Regions from separate parts of the Homo sapiens genome. Here region 1 is linked to region 2. Evidence: fine-mapped expression QTL. A gene starts in region 2. The other region holds a variant in brackets. All regions are shown on one strand. Distances are between the middles of the regions. Region 1 overlaps CDH13 (cadherin 13). Region 2 holds the start of CEDORA (CDH13 antisense oligodendrocyte and neuron associated lncRNA).

The links. PIP is the estimated chance that this variant, and not a neighbour inherited with it, causes the effect.
Region 1: its variant is the best candidate, but not a certain one, in a credible set for the expression of CEDORA in caudate (GTEx, PIP 0.88).

Annotation. Positions count from the first base shown.
Region 1 is chr16:83,740,886-83,745,239 of GRCh38, reverse strand. The region is part of intron 10 of CDH13 (cadherin 13); the gene reads right to left. The region is part of intron 1 of CEDORA (CDH13 antisense oligodendrocyte and neuron associated lncRNA); the gene reads left to right. Among named protein-coding and RNA genes, the nearest start is that of CEDORA, 30 kb to the left of the region's middle. The variant A/G (reference allele first, on the strand shown) is at 2,076.
Region 2 is chr16:83,770,960-83,775,355 of GRCh38, reverse strand. It overlaps CEDORA (CDH13 antisense oligodendrocyte and neuron associated lncRNA), which reads left to right and starts at 2,407. Exons shown (of 4, transcript NR_188499.1): 1 at 2,407-2,547. The region is part of intron 11 of CDH13 (cadherin 13); the gene reads right to left.

The DNA of each region.
Region 1 (4,354 bases), 30 kb after region 2:
TGGAAGGCGTCTGGCCTGTTCTTTCCTAAAACAGCCTCGGGGTGCAGCCTCCCTTTAATATTAATAGTAACACAGCTGCAGCAGCATCGAGCCTTACATTGCGCCGGCTGGACACCGCTCCAGGAGCTTCCAGCATCTATGCCTTCAGCCCTCACACCAGCCCTGGGAGGTTGATAATATTATTCCTCCCCTTTTACAGATGAGGAACTGAGAGGCCTAGAGATATGTGAACTTTGCCAAGATCATTGGCTAATATGGGGCATGGTTGGGATTCGCAGGCTGGATCTCTGGTGCCAAGGCCTGCTGTCACCCTCTGCTGCTTCCCCCCAGCCGTTCACATTGCCAGCATCACATGAGTGTTAGAGTCATGGACTCTGGAGAGGAAAGGACCTGGGTTCTAACAGTGAGCCTGGCAAGCTACTTCTCTGTGTTTCTACTTCCTCCTCTGTGACTCGGGGACAGTCCCAGTGGTGTTCTGGGGTAGCTGTGAGGGCAAACTGAAGCTGACACAAAGGGCTTGGTCTTGTGCGGGGCGCCCTCGGGGGAGCCGTTGCAGAGTCAGGCTATGGGTGTGTTAATGGCTCACTGGGGTCATGGCCCTGTGTGTCCTCCCTGATGTGACTCACACGGTCCCCTGGAATGTTTCAGAAACATCCGACTCAGCAGAGCCTAGGGGAACAATGTTTTGATGCTGCAACTGTGACAGGGGACAGATGGGGAGAACGGATGAGGCGAACGCAGGGCTTCCACATGCCCTTGCTGCTGCAATGATCCTTTCACTATTTTGTGAAAACAGAAGCGATGAATTACTCATGAGAATGAACTGCTTTAAAAACACCAGGCTTTCATTTAAAGAGTCATTTATGCTTCCACCTGGCAAATTTTTACTGTTTCAAGACCCCACTCATACGTCTCCTCTCGTTCATCCAGTGTGACTTTCCCAGTAGAATTAATCACCTCACTAGGTCTGTGCGAGGCACATGCACTGGTAAAAATGCCTTTGGGAGCCTAACACGGGCCCTGACGGCTCTGCCATCTCCACTAAACTCTAAGCTCCTTGGTGTCAGGATAGGTAAAAGTTGGTCAATAGACACACAGAATGCTTCCTTGGGCCCAGCTTGGTGCTAAACCCTTTAAGAGCATCACTACATTTATTTTTGTGACTCATGACAACCTGATGAAGTGGGTATCATCCTTGTTTTAAGGTTGAGGTAACCAAGAATCAGAGAGGCTTAGCAACTTGTCAAAAGCGGCCCAGTTAATAAGAGACAGAGCTGGAATGTAGCACCAGCATGCTGGATTCCAGGGGCTGGGCTTCTCGGTACACAGTGTTTTTCATGCCTAAGGCTGGGGTGGTGTGCTCTGCACCCCCAGGGCCGAGTAGAGTGCCTGGACGCAGACGGTGCCCGGTAAAGGTTTATTACATCTTTTCTCCTTCTGTTGGAACAATCATGGGGATGGAAAAAGCAAAGAAAAAAAAAAAAAAAAAAAGAAAAAAGAAAAAAGGCAACTCATCAGGTAGCAAGTTTCCTGTTGATCCAGGAGTGATTGGTAGTGGTTCAACATATTTGAAATAATGAAAGTTTTAAATGAACCGCATTCTATTGCCTGATTACTCAACTCAGTTTAGAAGATAAATAAAAACTGAATTAAATAAATTTGGCTTTCATGTTTGGCGTACAAGCAATGCTCTTTGATGCTCCCTCTGTCATTCCTTTTTTGTCCCATGATGCCATAATTTTGTTGTACAATTAGCATGTTTGCTTGTTTCTTGTCAAAGAAGCAGTTGTATTCAATAAAATGCTTAGAGACATGAACTCGGAGGCAGTCCTCAGAAACAATACTCAGCACGGTTAGGCCTGCCTGCGCCACATTTCCAGGGAAAGCCAGGGTTTGGGTGATTTTACAGGACAATGTCTCACTCTTTTTCCTCCTTAAAAAAATAATCAAGTATCCAGAGCTGTGCTATTTAACTGAGTTTTCACAGGACTCTTTCTGCTCCCCTCTGTTTGCTTATTTTATTTTATTTTTTGAGACGGAGTCTTGCTCTGTCGCCCAGGCTGGAGTGCAGTGGC[A/G]GCGATCTCAGCCCACTGCAACCTCTGCCTCCTGGGTTCAAATAATTCTCCTGCCTCAGCCTCCCAAATATCTGGAATTATAGGCACCTGCCACCATGCCTGGCTAAATTTTCTATTTTTAGTAGAGCGGGGTTTCACCAAGTTGGCCAGGCTGGTCTCGAACTCCTGACCTCAAGCGATCCACCTGCTTTGGCCTCCCAAAGTGCTGGGATTACAGGCATGAGCCACCGCACCTGGCCAGTTTGCTTATTTTGTTTGGTGCCTCCTCCCATGGGAGACCTCAAGGAGGTATGCCTGCCCCACAGATGCCCTGGAAGGACAGCTTGCTGCTCCTACTCAGAAACACACCTGCAGACAGAGGAGGACAGACGGACACTCATTTGCTGAGCACCCATGTAACATGAACTAAGAGCTGGGTGGAGACAATGAACGGTGGAGCCATCGTTCCCGATGTGGAGGGAGAACAGCTCAAGACCACGGAACAGCCTGCTCTCCCGCTTCCTGGCTTCCGTGCGCTTTTGTCCAATCAGGCTTTTTGACCAATCGGCCAGGCGCGCTATGTAAATTTCTGACATTTTCAAAGCTGTCTTTTTAATAAACCTTTCAGTGTAAAAATACTAGCGTGCAAGATGTTTTCAATGCTTCTAGGCCTGAAAAATGCATACGCCTTATTAAATTGGAATTTCCGGGCAATTTATCTGTAATGTGAACTTTGCTTGTTACAGGAAAAAAAAAATCAAATTAAAAGCTGAGCTCATTTCAGCCTGTAATGTAGCTTCACAGAAGCTGCTCTGAGTGCTTGCCAAGCCTCGGCCTCTTCTGGGTGTCGGTGTTGGGAGACGCAAGGCAAACTGATTAACAGAATTCGAGTCGCAGGCAGCGCAGTGGGGGTTACTGGGGCCTGCGCCACCCTGGAAGGCGGGCTCACTCTCAGCAGGGCCCCCTCAGAGCAGGGAAGAAAGCTTCCAGGCAAGTGGCCAGGGCCAGCTGTTGACCTGGAAGGACTTCCAGAGCCAAGGGCTGCCAGCCTCTGCCCTCAGGGGCTCAAGTATTGGTGGGAAGGTGAAAGAGATCAAAGGTTTGACAAGTCCCTTCTGCAGGCTTCTTGGGGTCACTCGCTTTCTGTGAGGTAGGGCAGCAGTCCCCAACCTCTTTGGCACCATGGACTGGTTTCGTGGAAGACAATTTTTCCATGAACAGGTGGGGGATGGCTTGGAGATGAAACTGTTCCTCCTCAGTTCAGGCATTAGATTCTCATAAGGAGTGTGCCGCCTAGATCCCTTGTGTGTGCAGTTCACAATAGGATTTGTGCTCCAATAACAATCTGATGTTGTGGCCCAGGGGTTGGGGCCGTCCGTGGCCCAGGGGTTGGGGACCCCTGATGTAGGGGACCCATGTTTGCGCAGCATGGTTGCCAACATTACATGACTGAGCATAGCTTTCCTTTCAGTTTAGACTTAAAAATGTCATAAAGTAATATTGGGCAATTAGTGCACAATAGCCAAATGGATCAATGCAATATAGCAGAGCACTAGACATGGCACAGATTATATACGTATCAAATTTATATATAGGGAGATTATAGATATAGTAATAGATGGAAGATGGATCTATCTCTATATATGGCATATATATACACACATATATATACACACACACACACATATATATATATACACACACACATATATATAGTAGGATAGGAAAGACTATGAGAAACGTAGAAAATAAAAACTACGAAAGGAGAGGAGATACAGGGTATTTTTATATTCCTGCTGAAGGATACAAACAACCCTGTAAAACTGTAGGAAAGAAGGGAAACAGTAGGGGAATTCTTCACACCCTATTTAATTTCAGTCCACTGGACCCCGTATTTATTATTAAAAGCAGAACCAGAAAGAGACAGAACTCCCAATTGAAGGAAATACACTATCTTAAAATAGCTCATGTAGCTATGGCCCTGAGTGTAAAGTAAAGGGCATATTTCAAATCTTCTGACAAAATGTATGGATAAAATTGAATGGCTAGTGAATTCCAGAATCCTAGATTAGTTAGACAGTCACAGCCCATCACAGTCCAGGGTACTGTTCTCTTCCTGTCCCAGGAAACCAGAGCCAAAGAAAGCAGTCTCAGTAAACAGAAAGGACTGCCATGGTCTCTAGGGCCCTAGAGGATCCATCTGGACCTGCCTGACTTTCTACCTGCATTTTCTATCTCTTTCCTCAGCCTTCCGAAGTTACAGACTCACTGGCCTTTCTTTAATTCCTTGAAATTAGCAA
Region 2 (4,396 bases):
TCCAATTGGGAATCTGCTGAAGGTCATGGCCCCTGCCTCCAGAGAAACGCACCTGCATTCAGAAATATACCTGAAGAGTCCACAGACACGCAGATTGCAAGCCCAGGCTTGGTGCAAGATCAGAGCAGAAGATCTGAGGCCAATTCATTGTAGGTATGGTGAGGCTGAGGTCCAGAGAGATTTAGGACAGGCTCAAATGGACACCGTGAGTGTCAGGCCTCCTTCTCTAGAGCAAGCATTAACCTATACTTTCTCCACCAGAATTTTTATTACATAGCTTGAGTCTTACAGGCTCTCATTTTAACCATGAAAGCAAGCTATAATCCCTAAACCATAATTCCAGGTTATTATTATTACTATTTACAGCTTCCTTCTTATGAGCTGTTCTTTTCATTGTGGTGAAATATACATAACATAAAATTGACAATTTTTAACCACTTTGAAGTGTACAGTTCAGTGGTGTTAAGTACATTCAAATTGTTGTGGGAACATCACCACCATTCATCTCCAGAACTTTCTCACCATGCAAAACTGAAACTCTGACCCATTAAACACCAAGTCCCCATTCCCCTTCCCCTGGCCCCTGGCAGCCACCATTCCACTCCTTGTCTCTATGAATCTGACGACTCTGGGGAACCCATGTAAGTGGAATTTTTTATTTTTTTTTCACAAATAAATGGTAGGCCGGGTGTGGTGGCTCAGGTCTATAATCCTAGCACTCTGGGAGGCTGAAGTGGGCAGATCACTTGAGGTCAGGAGTTTGACACTGGCCTGGCCAACATGGCGAAACCCTGTCTCTACTAAAAATACAAAAAATTAGCTGGGCATGATGGCACGTGCCTGTAATCCCAGCTACTCTGGAGGCTGAGGCAGGAGAATCGCTTGAACCCAAGAGGCAGAGGTTGCAGTGAGCTGAGACTGCACCACTGCACTCCAGCCTGGGCAGCAGAGCAAGACTCTGTCTCAAAGAAAAAAAAAAAGAAATGGCATTTGACTAGGTCATTCTAAATGTATTTGAGATTCTTAGCTTCCTGTTCCTATTTTGCTTGCTGGAAATGACTATGACAGCCTGTGTCATAGTCAGGCTGGGTACCCAAGGAATCATCATTTCCAGCTAGCATAGTCATAGTTGTCCCTGTAGTAGGACAATAGGCAGGATAGGCGCTGGGACCAATGTCCTAGGCTTGCTGGTATCACCGGCCATGCACAGTAAAATAGCATTTACTATTTCTGTAGGACGAATAGCTCAGTAGCCGAAAATGATTATAGAGTTGAGTAGATCTTTTTCAGAGATAACAGCAGGGGGCTGGGCTCCACATGGGGACAGTCTGTGCTGATGGAGGTTTGTGAAGCAGAAATGAGACCCCAGAGCTGAGGCCTCGTCTTCCAGCTACAAGACCATGCCAGGCAGGGAAGGGGGAGGGATAAGGATGGAGAGAAAGGAGGAAGCTTGGGAGCAGGACCTTATTATAGAAATGGGCCTCTGTGGGGTAGTGGTTTAGAGCCTCATGACTGGGGAACAGTGTTGGAGCCTGTGGCTCAGCCACCAGGAGAATCACCATATACTAATGCTCACCCTGGGTTTGAGGCAAGGCTAGAAGAACTTCCTTACCTCCTAAGGATAGATAGGCTTGACCAAGAGGGCCATAACCTTCCCCTGTGCTGGACTACACTTTAGATGGGCTTCTTTCAGACTCTAGAGCCCTGATATGGTTTGGCTTTGTGTCTCCACCCAAATCTCATCTCCAATTGTAATCCCCACATATTGAGGGAGGGAGATGATTGGATCATGGGGGTGGTTTCCCCCATGCTGTTCTCTTGATAGTGAGTGAGTTCTCATGAGATCGGATGGTTTTATAAGTGTCTGGCATTTAACCTGCTAGCACTTCTCTCTCCTGACACCATGTGAAGAAGGTCCTTGCTTCCCATTTGCCTTCCACCATGATTGTAAGTTTCCTGAGGCCTCCCCAGCCATGTGGAACTATGAGCCAATTAAACCTCTTTCCTTTATAAATTACCCAGTATCGAGTAGTAGCTATACAGTAGTATGAGAATGGACTAATATAGGCCTTGACTTCTCTTTTCTTGAAGCATTTACTTTAGAAACTTGCAATTGTAAATTCTTTCTCTGTCCCTGTGAGATGTAAATCTTCCAACCTGTTGCTAGTTTTGCAACCCAGGACCACTTTTCTCAAGGACCTGACATCTCTTTGAAATGTAATCATGGAAAGGAATAGTGTCTCTGTCTCTCAGTCTCTGTGGAAGGGTTGGAGCCTAACTCCAGTAAACACCCATTAGCAAACACAGATGCCTAATCACATGGACCAACCTCCCCACAAACATCTTCCAGTACTTTTCCATTAGCTCATCCCAGCTCTTAAAAATCGTCCCATTGTTTGTTTCAGCAGAGTTAGTTCAATCTCTCTCCCTTATTGTAGCCTTGAATAAAGGCTTTGCCTTTCAAACTCTGTCCTGCCCATTTTTCTTTGACATGTTCAGATGTTGGCAAGGCTGAAAACTGCAGGGGATCTGGTTGTGATAATCCAGGTAAGCCACAGGGAAAGCACAGGTAAGGCAGAAGCAGGGAAGTGAGGTGAGGGGTGGTGTATCCATGAAAGGAGGGTTCCAAAAATGAATGATAAGAATGGTCATGTCACACCAGGAGTGTGGTACTGTGTGCACCCGTTGGCAAGCGACTTAATGAGATTGCTTTAAACATGGCTTGATTTTAATTTGTAGAACAAAATTGAATCCATGATTGATCCACAAGGCCCTGTGAAGTGTTTTGTAAAAATATACACTAAGTCTTTATGGTCAGAGTTTCTTTGATGCCGGGAGTTTCTGCTGACCTATATTCAGTGTTATAAGTAATTGGATTTTTCTTTTTAACCAGCAGTTGCAGACTGGCATTTGGTCTGCTAATTTATCGTGTTTCTGGGATGTCCAGTGTTCTAAGAATTCTTATTTTTTATCCAAATGGCTTCAAGTGGAGCACATATTTCCAAGATGACCACTGGTCCTTTCCAGCCTACTGCCTCTGCCCTGGCTTCTAGCAGCATAAGACTTGGGCCTTCCTCATATGTTCCCTCCTAGCTAACCTGACTTTAGCCAGTATAGATTTTTCTTCATTTCTCCATTCCTGAAGTATGGCTCCCTCCTTTCTCTTAAGCATGTCTTTCAGTCTTATACTACTTCTTTTCTTAATATTGAGTCTATTTGTATACATGGATAGTTTAATAGGCATCTCATTTAAGGTTCTCAAATAAGTATACAAGCTAAAAAGTCACCCCCCATCCTTCTCCACCCACAGAGTGTACATTGTGTTGGGTGATATCATGGGGAAAATACCAGGAGCAAACCTTAGCTGCAGGAATCTCTTTTCTCTTGTGTCATTGACTTCTTATTAGAAAGACATGTGTTTTGGTTACAAGGTTGGCAATTCCATCATGCAGCAGTGTGAATGGGATGTAAGGAGATATTTTTAATTTTACCTCCTAATACAACCATATCAAATCCCATTTCCAAATGAGGAAATGAGGACTTGTAGGCACAGATATCTGGAAACAAAGCCTATTTAAAATTGCTTAGTAGGAATGACAGTTTTCCTTCCGACCCATTTTCAGTGACAGCCTGTCACTCTTGACTGAGAGATCTCCAACCTACAAATGTTGGTGGGTTATTTATTTTGCAAGCAGCCCTCCTGCTGCCATACAATGGCAAGTCTTGAGGGGGAAAGGGTTATCATTTTCTTTCCTTTGGATCTGAGTTACTGGCTCTGTTGCTCTAGAGGACTATGCCTTTTAGACCATGGCGGTGCTTTTGCTTCATGGACTTGGCACCCTGCCACGGTCTTCCTGGCATTCAACCTCTGCTTGCCCTTGTTTCTGGCTTTGTCGTTCCCACTCAGCACTGACAACTTGTAAGAGCCTCAGCACATTATATGACCACGATAGGACCACATGGATTCCACTGCTGGATTTCAAACTCCAATAATTAACCTTGTATTTCTTCAAGTTGAGCAGTGATAACTGCCTATGAGATGGCCAAGTTGGCCACCTGGCCTGCCTGGGTTACTCTTGGTCTGGTTGGCTCATGACTTACACTTAGCCTTTTGTGATCTTGGTGTAGGGAGGGCAGAACTGTGCGTTTTCTAAGAGAAGCAGGGTAATATGATTAATAAAAGGTGAAGATTTACGTAGAGGAATCGAGCACCTGTTATCATACAGTCTAGGAAAAGTCCAAGCAAACCAGGCAGGCTGTTGCTTTGAGCACATGGGGGTCTACATTCTAGTTTTTTCTCATTTTCTAGAAAAGAAAACTAGACACTCAGATTAAGGAAAATGTCCAAGGTGCTCTAACATTAGTGTGTCAGAGGCATTGAAATCAGAGCAACTCC